Regions from separate parts of the Homo sapiens genome. Here regions 1 and 2 are each linked to region 3. Evidence: fine-mapped expression QTL. A gene starts in region 3. Each other region holds a variant in brackets. All regions are shown on one strand. Distances are from middle to middle. Region 1 has its middle 10 kb from the start of SELP. Region 2 holds the start of LOC107985745 (a long non-coding RNA gene). Region 3 holds the start of FIRRM (FIGNL1 interacting regulator of recombination and mitosis).

What was found. PIP is the estimated chance that this variant, and not a neighbour inherited with it, causes the effect.
Region 1: its variant is the best candidate, but not a certain one, in a credible set for the expression of FIRRM in whole blood (TOPMed, PIP 0.67).
Region 2: its variant is the best candidate, but not a certain one, in a credible set for the expression of FIRRM in whole blood (INTERVAL, PIP 0.83).

Annotation. Positions count from the first base shown.
Region 1 is chr1:169,638,403-169,642,644 of GRCh38, forward strand. No RefSeq gene overlaps it. Among named protein-coding and RNA genes, the nearest start is that of SELP, 10 kb to the left of the region's middle. The variant C/T (reference allele first, on the strand shown) is at 1,718.
Region 2 is chr1:169,659,552-169,663,793 of GRCh38, forward strand. It overlaps LOC107985745 (a long non-coding RNA gene), which reads left to right and starts at 2,781. Exons shown (of 3, transcript XR_007066727.1): 1 at 2,781-2,972. The variant G/A (reference allele first, on the strand shown) is at 2,412.
Region 3 is chr1:169,793,405-169,797,646 of GRCh38, forward strand. FIRRM (FIGNL1 interacting regulator of recombination and mitosis) reads left to right here and starts at 1,636. Exons shown (of 25, transcript NM_001320047.2): 1 at 1,636-1,711; 2 at 2,425-2,579. It overlaps METTL18 (methyltransferase 18, RPL3 N3(tau)-histidine), which reads right to left and starts at 1,503. Exons shown (of 2, transcript NM_033418.4): 1 at 1,411-1,503; 2 at 1-493. The coding sequence starts at 291. RefSeq lists an enhancer at 1,236-1,555.

The DNA of each region.
Region 1 (4,242 bases), 160 kb before region 3:
GCGGTGAGCCAAGATCGCGCCATTGCACTCTAGCCTGTGCAACAAGAGTGAAACTCCGTCTCAAAAAAAAAAAAAAACCCAAAAAAGAAGAAGGAAATCCTGTCATTTGCAACAACATGGATGAACCTGTAGGACTTTATGTTAAATAAAATAAACCAGGCATAGAAAGACCAATATGTGATCTCACTTATATTTGGAATCTAAAAACACTGAACTCATAGAAGCAGAAAGTAGAAAGGTAGTTACTAAGGACTGGAGGTGAGGTGTGGGAATTCGGAAGATGTTGGTCAAAGGATACAGAGTCTCAGTTAGGAAGAGTAAGTTCAAGAGATCTATTGTACCACATGGTCACTACAGTTTATAACAATGTATTATATACAGATGATTCCTGACATAAAATGTTTCAACTTAGGATTTTTGACTATATCATGGTGCAAGAGCCATATTTATTCAGTATAGATTTATGATGGGGTTATGCTTGGATAAACCCATTGTAAATTGGAAATATCGTAAGTTGAAAATGCACTTTCAACTTTCAACATTTTCAGCTTATGATGATGGGTTTATCAGGATGTAACATCATTGTAACTTGAGGGGCATCTGTACTTGAAAATTGCAAAAAGAGTAGCTTGTAAATGTTCTCATCACACAAAAAATAATAATGTGAGGTCACTGATATGTTAATTAGCTTAATTTAGCCATTTCACAAAAGTATAGATATATCAAAACATTGTGTTGTACACCATAAATATATATAATTTTTATTTATCAATTACAGTTAAATTCATACATACATACATATACACATACCCACCAAAAATAAAGAAAAAAGAAAATGAAAAAGAAGAATCTCTAGGAATAGGAATGAGAAGAAAAAACTGAATTTGTTTAAAAGCTACTCAGGCTCAATACCATTTTCTCATATGGATATAATCTGTGTAGAAAATTTGGGTTGTCACTAAAAATGGGATATAATTCCAATATAATTTAATTAGTAGTGTTATATATCTGGTTTGTATTTTTTTTATGTCTTCAGATTATACCATACATTCCCAGAGGGCAGGGATCCTTTCCTATATTAATCTTCCATCACCTGAAGTATCTAGCAGAGGGCAGAGAGACACTCAGCAAATACTTGTTGATTCATTGGTTGATTCATTAGACCCCAAGGGGACACAATGAAAGTGCTCCCTCCCATGTTCCTCTCTGAATTCTATTTATCTCATTACACTGGTGCATTCAAATACACAAGAAATAGCTAAGTCCCTTTGAGACTCCTGAGAGTGTGCTAGCATAGGGATTCAGTCATGAGTATATCTCATGAAGCCCATGGTTTTGTTGGGGGTGGGGGAGCAGATATTAAATAAAAATCACACAAATAAATTCAGGAAGAAAAGAATGTGGTACAATGAAAGGGCATGATAGGAATTGGAAAACTCCTTTAAGAGAACAGACACTTCTCAAAAGAAGACATTTATGCAGCCAACAGACACATGAAAAAAAATGCTCGTTATCACTGGCCATCAGAGAAATGCAAATCAAAACCACAACGAGATACCATCTCACACCAGTTAGAATGGCAATCATTAAAAAGTCAGGAAACAACAGGTGCTGGAGAGGATGTGGAGAAATAGGAACACTTTTACACTGTTGGTGGGACTGTAAACTAGTTCAACCATGGTGGAAGACAGTGTGGCGATTCCTCAGGGATCTAGAA[C/T]TAGAAATACCATTTGACCCAGCCATCCCATTACTAGGTATATACCCAAAGGATTATAAATCATGCTGCTATAAAGACACATGCACACGTATGTTTATTGCAGCACTACTCACAATAGCAAAGACTTGGAACCAACCCAAATGTCCAACAATGATAGACTGGATTAAGAAAATGTGGCACATATACACCATGGAATACTATGCAGCCGTAAAAAATGATGAGTTCATGTCTTTTGCAGGGACATGGATGAAGCTGGAAACTATCATTCTCAGCAAACTATCGCAAGGACAAAAAACCAAACACCGCATGTTCTCACTCATAGATGGGAATTGAACAATGAGAACACTTGGACACAGGAAGGGGAACATCACACTCCAGGGCCTGTTGTGGGGTGGGGGAGGGGGGAGGGATAGCATGAGGACATATACCTAATGTAAATGACGAGTTAATGGGTGCAGCACACCAACATGGCACATGTATACATATGTAACAAACCTGCACGTTGTGCACATGTACCCTAGAACTTAAAGTATAATAAAATATATATATATAAAGAGAATGACTTTGGAGCTGAGGTCTAGGTTGGGAGAACTTTCTAGGCCAGTCAAGGTTTGGAGCAAGCAGCCTGGGAGCCTAGAGACAGCCATGGTGGCCTTGGGGCAGGAACAGAGGCTAGAGATGTAGGGAGGGCCTTGGCTATGCCAGGTCTATGTTAAAATTGAGTTTTCACATGTGCCATCTGTCATTAGATCAAATCAGAGACAGTTATTTCTTCAGGAAAATTTCACCTGCAAAGCTGTTTCCTCCACTCAGAAGACTAGGGAACTTTGTAAATAATAGGTTATAGGAAGACAAGTTACAATTTAAAAAAAAGAATTTACAGCTTTTTTTCTTTACTGTTAATATATGTTCATTGTGAAAAAATACATTGAAAGTTCAGAAAAGCACAAAGAAGGGGAAAAATTGCTCATAATACTGTCACCAATGAATCTGAATCACATTGTACATTGTTTTAAAATATGCTTTTTAATATTCAGTGATATATCATAAACCTTTTTGATGTTTTAAAATATATTTCTGTTCTAGTTACAACTAAAAAACTCCCAAATATATAAGTAGATATAAGTATAACTATACACATGGAGATATAGATATACATATAGATAGAGATACAACATAATGATGAGGAATGAAGATAAATTCAACCTCCCCACAGCTTAATGTCCTTAACAAAACTTCCCAGGGAGATGGAACACTTCTGGTCCATTTGCCTGAAGTGTCTGTCCCTTTCCTAATGTTCTCTCCCCTTGTCATGGAAAAAGATGCCAATTTTCCCCATACAGCTTTAGAAAGGTATCTTATACAAGTTTCATGAACTCGTGACTCTGCTTGCTGAAATGCCATTTGAATTGGCCTGTGGTATTATGCTCAAACATTTCTTTTCTTTATCTTTGCTCTCCAGTTTTTGAAAGGGAAGGAAAGGCAAGGAAATAAGTCAACTTAACAAAAGTCCCAAACAGTAAACATGAACTTTGAAAAAACTGTCTTCCTATATATCCTTAAATAGAAATAGGATCCTCAGGAAACACTATACATTTCCATATTTATACCCACTTAGCCCCACTTCATGGTTCATTTTTTCATTTTATATATTTTTGTGAGGGCCTGCTCTGTGCTATTATCTAAGCTACGCTCTGATCACACAAAGATGAATAAGACAGAGTCCCTGTCCTGAAGGAGCTCGAACACCTGTGGAGAAGTGAGCATATAAACAGATAATTATAGACAATGTCAAGGAGTCAATAAACACAGTCCCACAAAAGGGACTCCCACAAGAGACCCACAAGAGGCCATCTGACAGTCTGATAGTGGGGGTGGAGAGATGGTCAGAAAGGGTGTGGAGGAGAAACCCTTGAGCTGAGTGAAATAAGTTGGATTCTTTGGTGCAAACTCAATGGTTAAACTTGCACACAAGGAAAATGCTCTAAAATCAACAGACAAATTAGGAAGTGGTTTTTCTCCTTAAAAAAAGTTCTATCCTTCCCAAAGCATACTGTGTCTGCACGCTCCGATCACCAAAAGGCTGTGATAACCACAGAAGGGTTATCACCCATTCTAGAATACTAGAAACATAGTCACATGGGTGATCTATTTATAAATGAACACCATGATAGATTATTTAAAAGTCACTGAGGAAAGGAAGCAGAGATATTGTTATATTTATGAGCTGACATTATTCTTGGGCCAGACCCTGGCTACACATTTAAAAAGCTATATCTCATTTAATACTCACCACGACATCATGAGGTAGGTTCCATCTGCACAACTGGTCTGTCTACTTAGACAGTATTTTGATGTCCATTTTATTTAAAAGGAAATTGAAGATTAGAGCGTTAACTGTTTTCCTCAAGATGGCACAGTTGTTAAGTGAAATAAATGGGATTCAAATTTAAGTGCACCCCAAATAATACTATATTAAAATATGGGATTTTTCATTAAACTCATTTAAAAGTGCTCATTTTTGT
Region 2 (4,242 bases), 130 kb before region 3:
AATGATAAAGGTGATATCACTGATCTCACAGAAATACAAACTACCATCAGAAAATACTATAAACACCTAGTGCAAATAAACTAGAAAATCTAGAAGAAATTGATAAATTCTTGGACACATACACTCTCCCAAGAGTAAACCAGGAAGAAGTTGAATCCCTGAATAGACCAACAACAAGTTCTAAAATTGAGGCAGTAATTAATATCCTACCAACAAAGAAAAGCCCAGGATCAGATGGATTCACAGCCAAATTTTACCAGAGGTACAGAGGAGCTGGTACAATTCCTTCTGAAACTATTCCAAAGAATAGAAAAAGAGGGACTCCTCCCTCACTCATTTTATGAGGCCAGCATCATCCTGATACAAAAAACTGACAGAGACACAACAAAAAAAGAAAATTTCTGGCCAATATCCCTGATGAACATCAATGCGAAAATCCTCAATAAAATACTGGCAAACCGAATCCAGCAGCATATCAAAAAGCTACCCACCACAATCAAGTCAACTTCATCCCTGAGATGTGAGGCTGGTTCAACATACACAAATCAATAAATGTAATCCAGCACATAAACAGAACCAATGACAAAAACAACATGATTATCTCAATAGAGGCAGAAAAAGCCTTCAATAAAATTAAACACCCCTTCATTCTAAAAACTCTCAATAAACTAGGTATTGATGGAATGTATCTCAAAATAATAAGAGCTATTTGTGACAAACCCACAGCCAATAGCATACTGAATGGGCAAAAGCTGTAAGCATTCCCTTTGAAAACCGACACAAGACAAGGATACCCTCTCTCACCACTTCTATTTAACATAGTATTAGAAGTTCTAGCCAGGCCAGTCAGGCAAGAGAATGAAATAAAGGGTATTCAAATAGGAAGAGAAGAAGTCAAATTGTTTCTGTTTGCAGATGACATAATTGTGTATTTAGAAACCATTGTCTCAGCCCAAAATCTCCTTAAGCTGATAAACAAATTCAGCAAAATCTCAGGTTACAAAATCAATGTGCAAAAATTACAAGCATTGCTATACACCAATAATAGACAAACAGGGAGCCGAATCATGAGTGAACTCCTATTCATAATTGCTACAAAGAGAACAAAATCCCTAGGAATACAACTTACAAGAGATGTGAAGGACCTCTTCAAGGAGAACTACAAACCACTGCCCAAAGAAATAAAAGTGGACACAAACGAATGGGAAAACATTCCATGCTCATGGATAGGAAGAACAAATATCATGAAAATGGCCATACTTCCCAAAGTAATTTATAGATTCAATGCTATCCCCATCAAACTACCACTGACTTTCTTCACAGAATTAGAAAAAACTACTTTAAATTTCATTCTGGTAACAAAAAAGAGCCCACATAGCCAAGACAATCCTAAGCAAAAAGAACAAAGCTGGAGGCATCACACTGCCTGACTTCAAACTATACTACAAGGATACAGTAACCAAAACAGCATGGTACTGGTACTGAGAGGTGACAGCGTGCTGGCAGTGCTCACAGCCCTCGCTCACTCTTGGCGCCTCCTCTACCTGGGCTCCCACTTTGGCGGCACTTGAGGAAACCTTCAGCCTGCCGCTGCACTGTGGGAGCCCCTTTCTGGGCTGGCCAAGGCTGGAGCCGGCTCCCTCAGCTTGCGGAGAGGTGTGGAGGGAGAGGCATAGGCAGGAACCGGGGCTGTGCGTGGTGCTTGTGGGCCTGCGCGAGTTCCGGGTAGGCGTGGGCTTGGTGGACCCCACACTTGGAGCGGCCAGCCGGCCCCACCAGCCCTGGGCAGTGAGGGGCTTAGCACCTGGGCCAGCAGCTGCTGTGCTCAATTTCTCGCCAGGCCTTAGCTGCCTTCCCACGGGGCAGGGCTTGGGACCTGCAGCCCACCATGCCTGAGCCTCCCCCAACTCCCTGGGCTCCTGTGCAGCCCGAGCCTCCCCAGTGAGCACCGCCCCCTGCTCCACAGCGCCCAGTCCCATCAACCACCCAAGGGCTGAGGAGTGTGGGTGCACAGCATGGTACTGGCAGGCAGCTCCACCTGCAGCCCTGGTGTGGGATCCACTGGGTGAAGCCAGCTGGGCTCCTGAGTCTGGTGGGGATGTGGAGAACCTTTATGTCTAGCTAAGGGATTGTAAATACACCAATCGGCACTCTGTATCTAGCTCAAGGTTTGTAAACACACCAATCAGCACCTTGTGTCTAGCTCAGGGTTTGTGAATGCACCAATCGACACTCTGTATCTAGCTACTCTGGTGGTGACTTGAAGAACCTTTGTGTCAACACTCTGTATCTAGCTAATCTGGTGGGGACTTGGAGAACTTTTGTGTCCACCTCAGGGATTATAAATGCACCAATCAGCACCCTGTCAAAACAGACCACTTGACTCTACCAATCAGCAGGATGTGGGTGGG[G/A]CCAGATAAGAGAATAAAAGCAGGCTGCATGAGCCAGCAGTGGCAACCCGCTCGGGTCCCCTTCCACACTGTGGAAGCTTTGTTCTTTCGCTCTTTGCAGTAAATCTTGCTGCTGCTCACTCTTTGGGTCCACACTGCCTTTATGAGCTGTAACACTCACCGTGAAGGTCTGCAGCTTCACTCTTGAAGCCAGCAAGACCACGAACCCACTGGGAGGAAAGAACAACTCCAGATGTGCCACCTTAAGAGCTGTAACACTCACCGAGAAGGTCTGCAGCTTCACTCCTGAGCCAGCGAGACCATGAACCCACCAGAAGGCCGAACACATCCAAACATCAGAAGGAATAAACTCTGGACACGCCGCCTTTAAGAACTGTAACACTCACTGCGAGGGTCCATGGCTTCATTCTTGAAGTCAGTGAGACCAAGAACCCACCAATTCCGGGCACATTTTGGTGACCACGAAGGGACTATCACCTATTGCCAAGCGGTGAGGCTATCGCCAAGCAGTGAGACCATTGCCTGTCACTGTGCGGCGAGACAATTGCTTATCGCCAAGCAGTGAGTACCATCGGACGCTTTTCACTTGCTATTCTGTCCTATTTTTCCTTAAAATTCGAGGGCTAAATACTGGGCACCTGTTGGCCAGTTAAAAGCGACTAGCACGGCCGCCAGACTAAAGACACGGGTGTCAGGCTTTCTGGGAAAGGGCTCTCTAACAACCCCCGACTCTTCGAAGTTGGGACTGTTGGTTTGCCTAGAACCAGCTTCCACTTTTCCTGTACTTCTGGGCTGAGCCGAGGGTTGACAGAGAGGAAAGCCATGCAGCTCCGGGGTCCTGACAACAAGTTGGTTGACCCTGTGGCCATGAGCAGAACTCTCAAAGGCATGTTGCCCAAGCGAGACTCTCGCCCATCTATCCTATCTATCCTGATGCTTGCCCCCTGGGTCCTAATGCCTGCCAGACAAACTTCCTCTTGCCTCTCTTCTCCGAGGTTAGTCCCACTTCTAAAAATTGCTACCTGTCTCTGGTGCTTTTCTAGTTTCTCCTATAAGAATGATTTCTAGAATAAACTCCAGGACTCTGTTACCTTCTTTAGGCACCCGGGCTCACCAATCAGAAAGACATAATTTTTGCCCAAAGCCCCATCATAGTGGGGACTACCTGGAATTTTAGGATCCCTCCTCAGACTAATAGGCATAACAAAAGCTATTCCTGAAGCTAGGATATGGGGAGCCTCAGAAATTGTATCCTTCCTATTCATATAAGTGAGGACAAAAGGTGTCACTCTTCCAACCCTGGAGATCACTTCCCTCCCTCAGGGTATGGCCCTCCACTTCATTTTTGGGGCATAACATCTTTATAGGAAAGGGGTAAAGTCCCAATACTAACAGAAGAATGCTTAGGACTCTAACAGGTTTTTGAGAATGCGTCAGTAAGGGCCACTAAAGCCGATTTTTCTCGGTTGGTCCTCCTTGTGGTCTAGGAGGACAGGCAAGGGTGCAGGTTTTCGAGAATGTGTTGGTAAGGGCCACTAAATCCGACCTTCCTCAGTTCTCCATGTGGTCTGGGAGGAAAACTAGTGTTTCTGCTGCTGCGTCGGTGAGCACAACTATTCCGATCAGCAGGGTCCAGGGACTGTTGCGGGTTCTTGGGCAGGGGTTGTTTCTGCTGCTGCGTCGGTGAGCACAACTATTCTGATCAGCAGGGTCCAGGGACTGTTGCAGGTTCTTGGGCAGGGGGAAAAACAAAATAAACCAAAACCATGGGCGGTTTTGTCTTTCAGATGGGAAACACTCAGGCATCAACAGGCTCACCCTTGAAATGCAT
Region 3 (4,242 bases):
CAAGGAGGGCTGTTTTCCATGTGGCTCCAAGTTCCTTGAACTGCTGGCTGCACTGAGTGGACTGTCTGTGTCTTGAGAGGGAGCTGCATTTTCCATTGACTTATGTTCCCACAAGTGATCCTGAGGCAAGTCAAATTGTTCTGCAGAACATTTTCTGTCCCTCTCTTCTCCTTTTTGACTTTCTGAGACTGACAGCTCTTTTGAGGAATCCAGGGTCAAAGCTCCATCTCTAATGGGTGTTAATTCATTTTCCAGATGGTCTTCTATAGTGAAATTAAACTGAAAGGTCATCCTCTTATTAAATGCACACAATCTTTAAATTCAGATTCTTCAACTTCTGGATAGAATTTGATGATACACACAAATCTGCCTCAATTATTCAATTAGTTTTGTTGGGCCCAATTTCTCTTTAGCAGCTTATACATGGTAACAAATATTTAGAGATATTTCCAAATGACTTTTTAGACGTCTTTGGTCCTCTTTCCAAGCAGCTCTGGAAAGAAAAAAAAAAAAAAAAGAAAGAAAATGATGATTAAAGCAAAATGGCACATTTCACTAAAGTGTAATATTAAACAGCCACCCCCACCCCTCCCTGTCCCACCATACAGCTGCTTTTTCTTAAAAAGTTGTGGGGAAGAGAGAGAGATAAGAGATTTGGACACTCATACACACCTTAAGGGTTCCAAAGTGGGAGAAGAAAATCAACTATAAAAACAAACAGAAGAACAACAGCAACCACCACCACTACCACCTGGACAAACATAAAGTCCAAGATATTCAGACAGGACAGCCTAGCTACTTGCTGTCTTTCAGCTGTCTTGATTTGTGTCCAACCATATTCACCCCCTAAGCTTCCAGAATAACTTCACTTCTGTCTTTTACAGAAGAGGTGCAGTATTTTATTTTGGTAAGTCAGCGTCCCTTTAAAAACATGCATAGGTATGGCCTGGTGTGTGTAAATTCATCCAAGACTTCACTCCAAACATTTAGTCGAGAACAGCAGCCCTAAGTGTATAGAAGTGGGGGTAATTTGGCAATAATTAGTAAAGACTAATTCGGTGGCAGAGCAAACGCAAACTAGGGCACTGCAGTAGTTTGGAGAGACCTGTAGAAATAAGAAGCAACTTTATTGAGAATCTTCTATCTACTGCGCTAGACACTATACCATCTGCCTCAATTTTCACAGTTCTGGCAAGTGGGATCTTTGTTCCCTTTATACAAGATTTACAATTTGGGGGAGAGGCGGGTCACCCAGTCCCGCGGCTAGGAACGCGCCTCTTTCCTCTCCCATCACGCTGCAAGGCTTGGAGTCACTTCCGGCTGCAGGTCCCGGAACAAATCCGACCCCAGAAGTGGGGACTTCTGGCCCTCACCTCCCCATTTGAATGTAATGTTTACAGTGATCCAGACCTGGGGATGCTTGCTTCCCGACGTGTCCTGGGATCGCGCTTCTGAAAAAGCTCACCTCACAACGCCTCCTCCGGACCTAAATCGCGCACCAGTGAGTCGAGTCCTCCAGGGGCTAGAGAAGCCCGACTTTCTTTCCGGCCTTGAGGGACCCGGGCTCACCAAGAAACCAGCCGCCCTCCTCTCTATGGTTTTGGAGCCGGCGGAGAGCGCGCAAGGGTTGGCGGGACTGCGAGTTTCCGGTCTGGGCTTTGGCGGGTCTGGTTTGAAGCTCTCCTGTTTGACGAAAGTATGTCTCAGGAAGGTGCGGTCCCAGCTAGCGCGGTTCCCCTGGAAGAATTAAGTAGCTGGCCAGAGGAGCTATGCCGCCGGGAACTGCCGTCCGTCCTGCCCCGACTCCTCATATCCTTCCTTGGTTGTCACTTCTACCTAGAGAAGGGTGTGGGCGGGTCGCGAACCTTTCTCTTCTGTCCCTTCAGACCCACCGCCAGGCTGGGTTATATTACCGCGGCCTGAACCCCCTCTTTTCTTTGTCAGTGAGTGGGATGAAAAGTGAGGGACTGGAGGGGAAGCGACAACCGTGGTAGATTTAAGTAAGGCTTTGGCCCTGGAAAGCCTCGCGGACGTGTTCTGACCCAAGGTTTTAGCAGTGGATGTGGCGTTTTCTTCCATTCCTTCTTTCAGTTTTTCTGTACTCGTTGCTTGCAATTAAGTGTAAATACTTTTGCTAGTGGATAATGGGGGAGGCAAGGACTGAGACCTGCGGTATGACGATAGCTCTGGCTCTTAATAGTTTGAGGTAAAGCGAGATACTCTGAGCTTTTGTCTCCCGTAAAAAGGGTGGTGAATATGAATAAGGGCTTTCTTAGCGTTATAAGAATTAAAGGGCATAGTTCTGTGGTGTGAAATCTTTAAAAGATGTTCAGTAAATAAAAATGATTTTCCTCCTTCCCCTCTCAGACCTCTTTTTCTTCTTTCTTTCTTTTTTTTTGACAAGTTCTCACTCCTCTCACCCAGGCTGGAGTCTTTCTGAAAGAGTTCTTCCGCTTGTTGTTGGCTTTCAACTGTTGGATTTGAGGCGCTTAGCGCCTTCTTCGTCCGGGTGCAGCACATTCTTGATTGGTCTCATGCCTTTGTGGTTGTAAATGTGCCTGGAATCCTAGCCTTTCATGGTAAACCATATGTATATGTATCTTTTTCACAACATTTGAGCCCAGCTTTATACAATTACACTCAAAAGAAAAAAAGTAACCTTCACTTGAGAGAATCTCAATACTGCACAAATATTGTGCAGCTAAAGCCCTATGTAATCACATAGAAGTCATTCACCTAGGCATTAGCAAAATCTCAGAAGGTGCCAAAGCCCCCTTTTTTAGTTTTTGTGTAGGTACAGAACTGCCGTCTTCAAGGAGTTTCAACTTGAAAACAAATAGCCACCCTCAAAACATTCAAAAACACTTAAACTGCGTGCATAATGTGTGTGAGACATGGTGTTAGGCTTTGGGAGAACAGAGACACGGAACGTGATTCCTCTTCTTCCCCACAAGCTTATAGAGAGACTTCATTAAGTTGAAAGTCAACATTCCCACCTAGCTTTGCACTTCAAACGACATATTCAAAAAAGCCCAAACTTCCTCTAGTTTTCTTCATCTGAGTAAATGGTTTCACAAACTGAAACCTTGAATCCTCTCTGTCTCACACACCCGATCAGTAAGTTCTATTGTTTCTGATTCCAAACTATGTCTTGAATCAATCCGTTTATCTCCATCCTCATTGCTACCACTCTGATTCCAAACCCTTATCACCTCTCACTTGGAGTATTAATAGTTTCCTTGTTTCTACTCATAATTCATTATTCCAAAAAAGTTAAGAGGGGAAAAACATAGATCTCGTCATTTCCCTTTTTAAACCACTTTACCTTCAAGGTTCCAGGTGATCTAAGCCTTGCCCTTCTCTCATACCTAGTTAATTAACTACACTCTGTTCATGAATACATTAGGCTCACCTACCTCAAGATCTTTTTGCTCAGCCTGATTTGTTCTCTCAGCCTTTTGCATATTTCATGTTTATGTCTTGGCCCAAATGTCACTTCCTTAGAGGGGCTTTTTCAGAGCCTTCAATCTTAGGCAGTTCCCCCAAACGCAGTCTTACACTTGTATCACATTGGCCTGTTCAGTTTTCTAAAAAGCACATTACCATTAAAAGAAATGCTCTTGTTTGCTTTGTATATTTTCCACTTCTACACATTATGTTGCAAAGTTCATAAAGGCAGGATGTTGATTTTCTTCACAGCGTTACCCTCAGCACCTAGAACAGTGCCTGACACATAGTAAGCATTCATTAAAGGGCTAAAAATATTTCATGTTTTAAAAATACTTGGGAGTCTAATTAGACAATACTTTTTTTCAGCTTAATGGTAGTATTTTAGCTTCACTATTTTAACAAATGAAAAATTTGCAATAAATCTACAATGCCATTACCCCCCAAAATCTTTTTCATGTTTTGCATTTTACGTATTATTTTCCAGGCCTTACCTGCATGTCTGCATAATCATAACTGACTAATTTTGGAACAGCTGGTAATTATTTGAGCTTTACTGAAATTTTTTCATGAGGCCAATTCTACCCTACTGAACTCAAATTTGAGTTAATGATGACCTCATTTTGATTGCTGCTGTAAAAAATAAGATTTCGGAAGAGGAATGAATTCTTGTATTACTGTGGTAGGACTATGGGTTTTTTTTTGTTTGTTTGTTTGTTTTGAGACGGAGTCTCACCCTGTCACCCAGGCTGGAGTGCAGTGGTGCGATCTCAGCTCACAGCAGCCAGGTTCAAG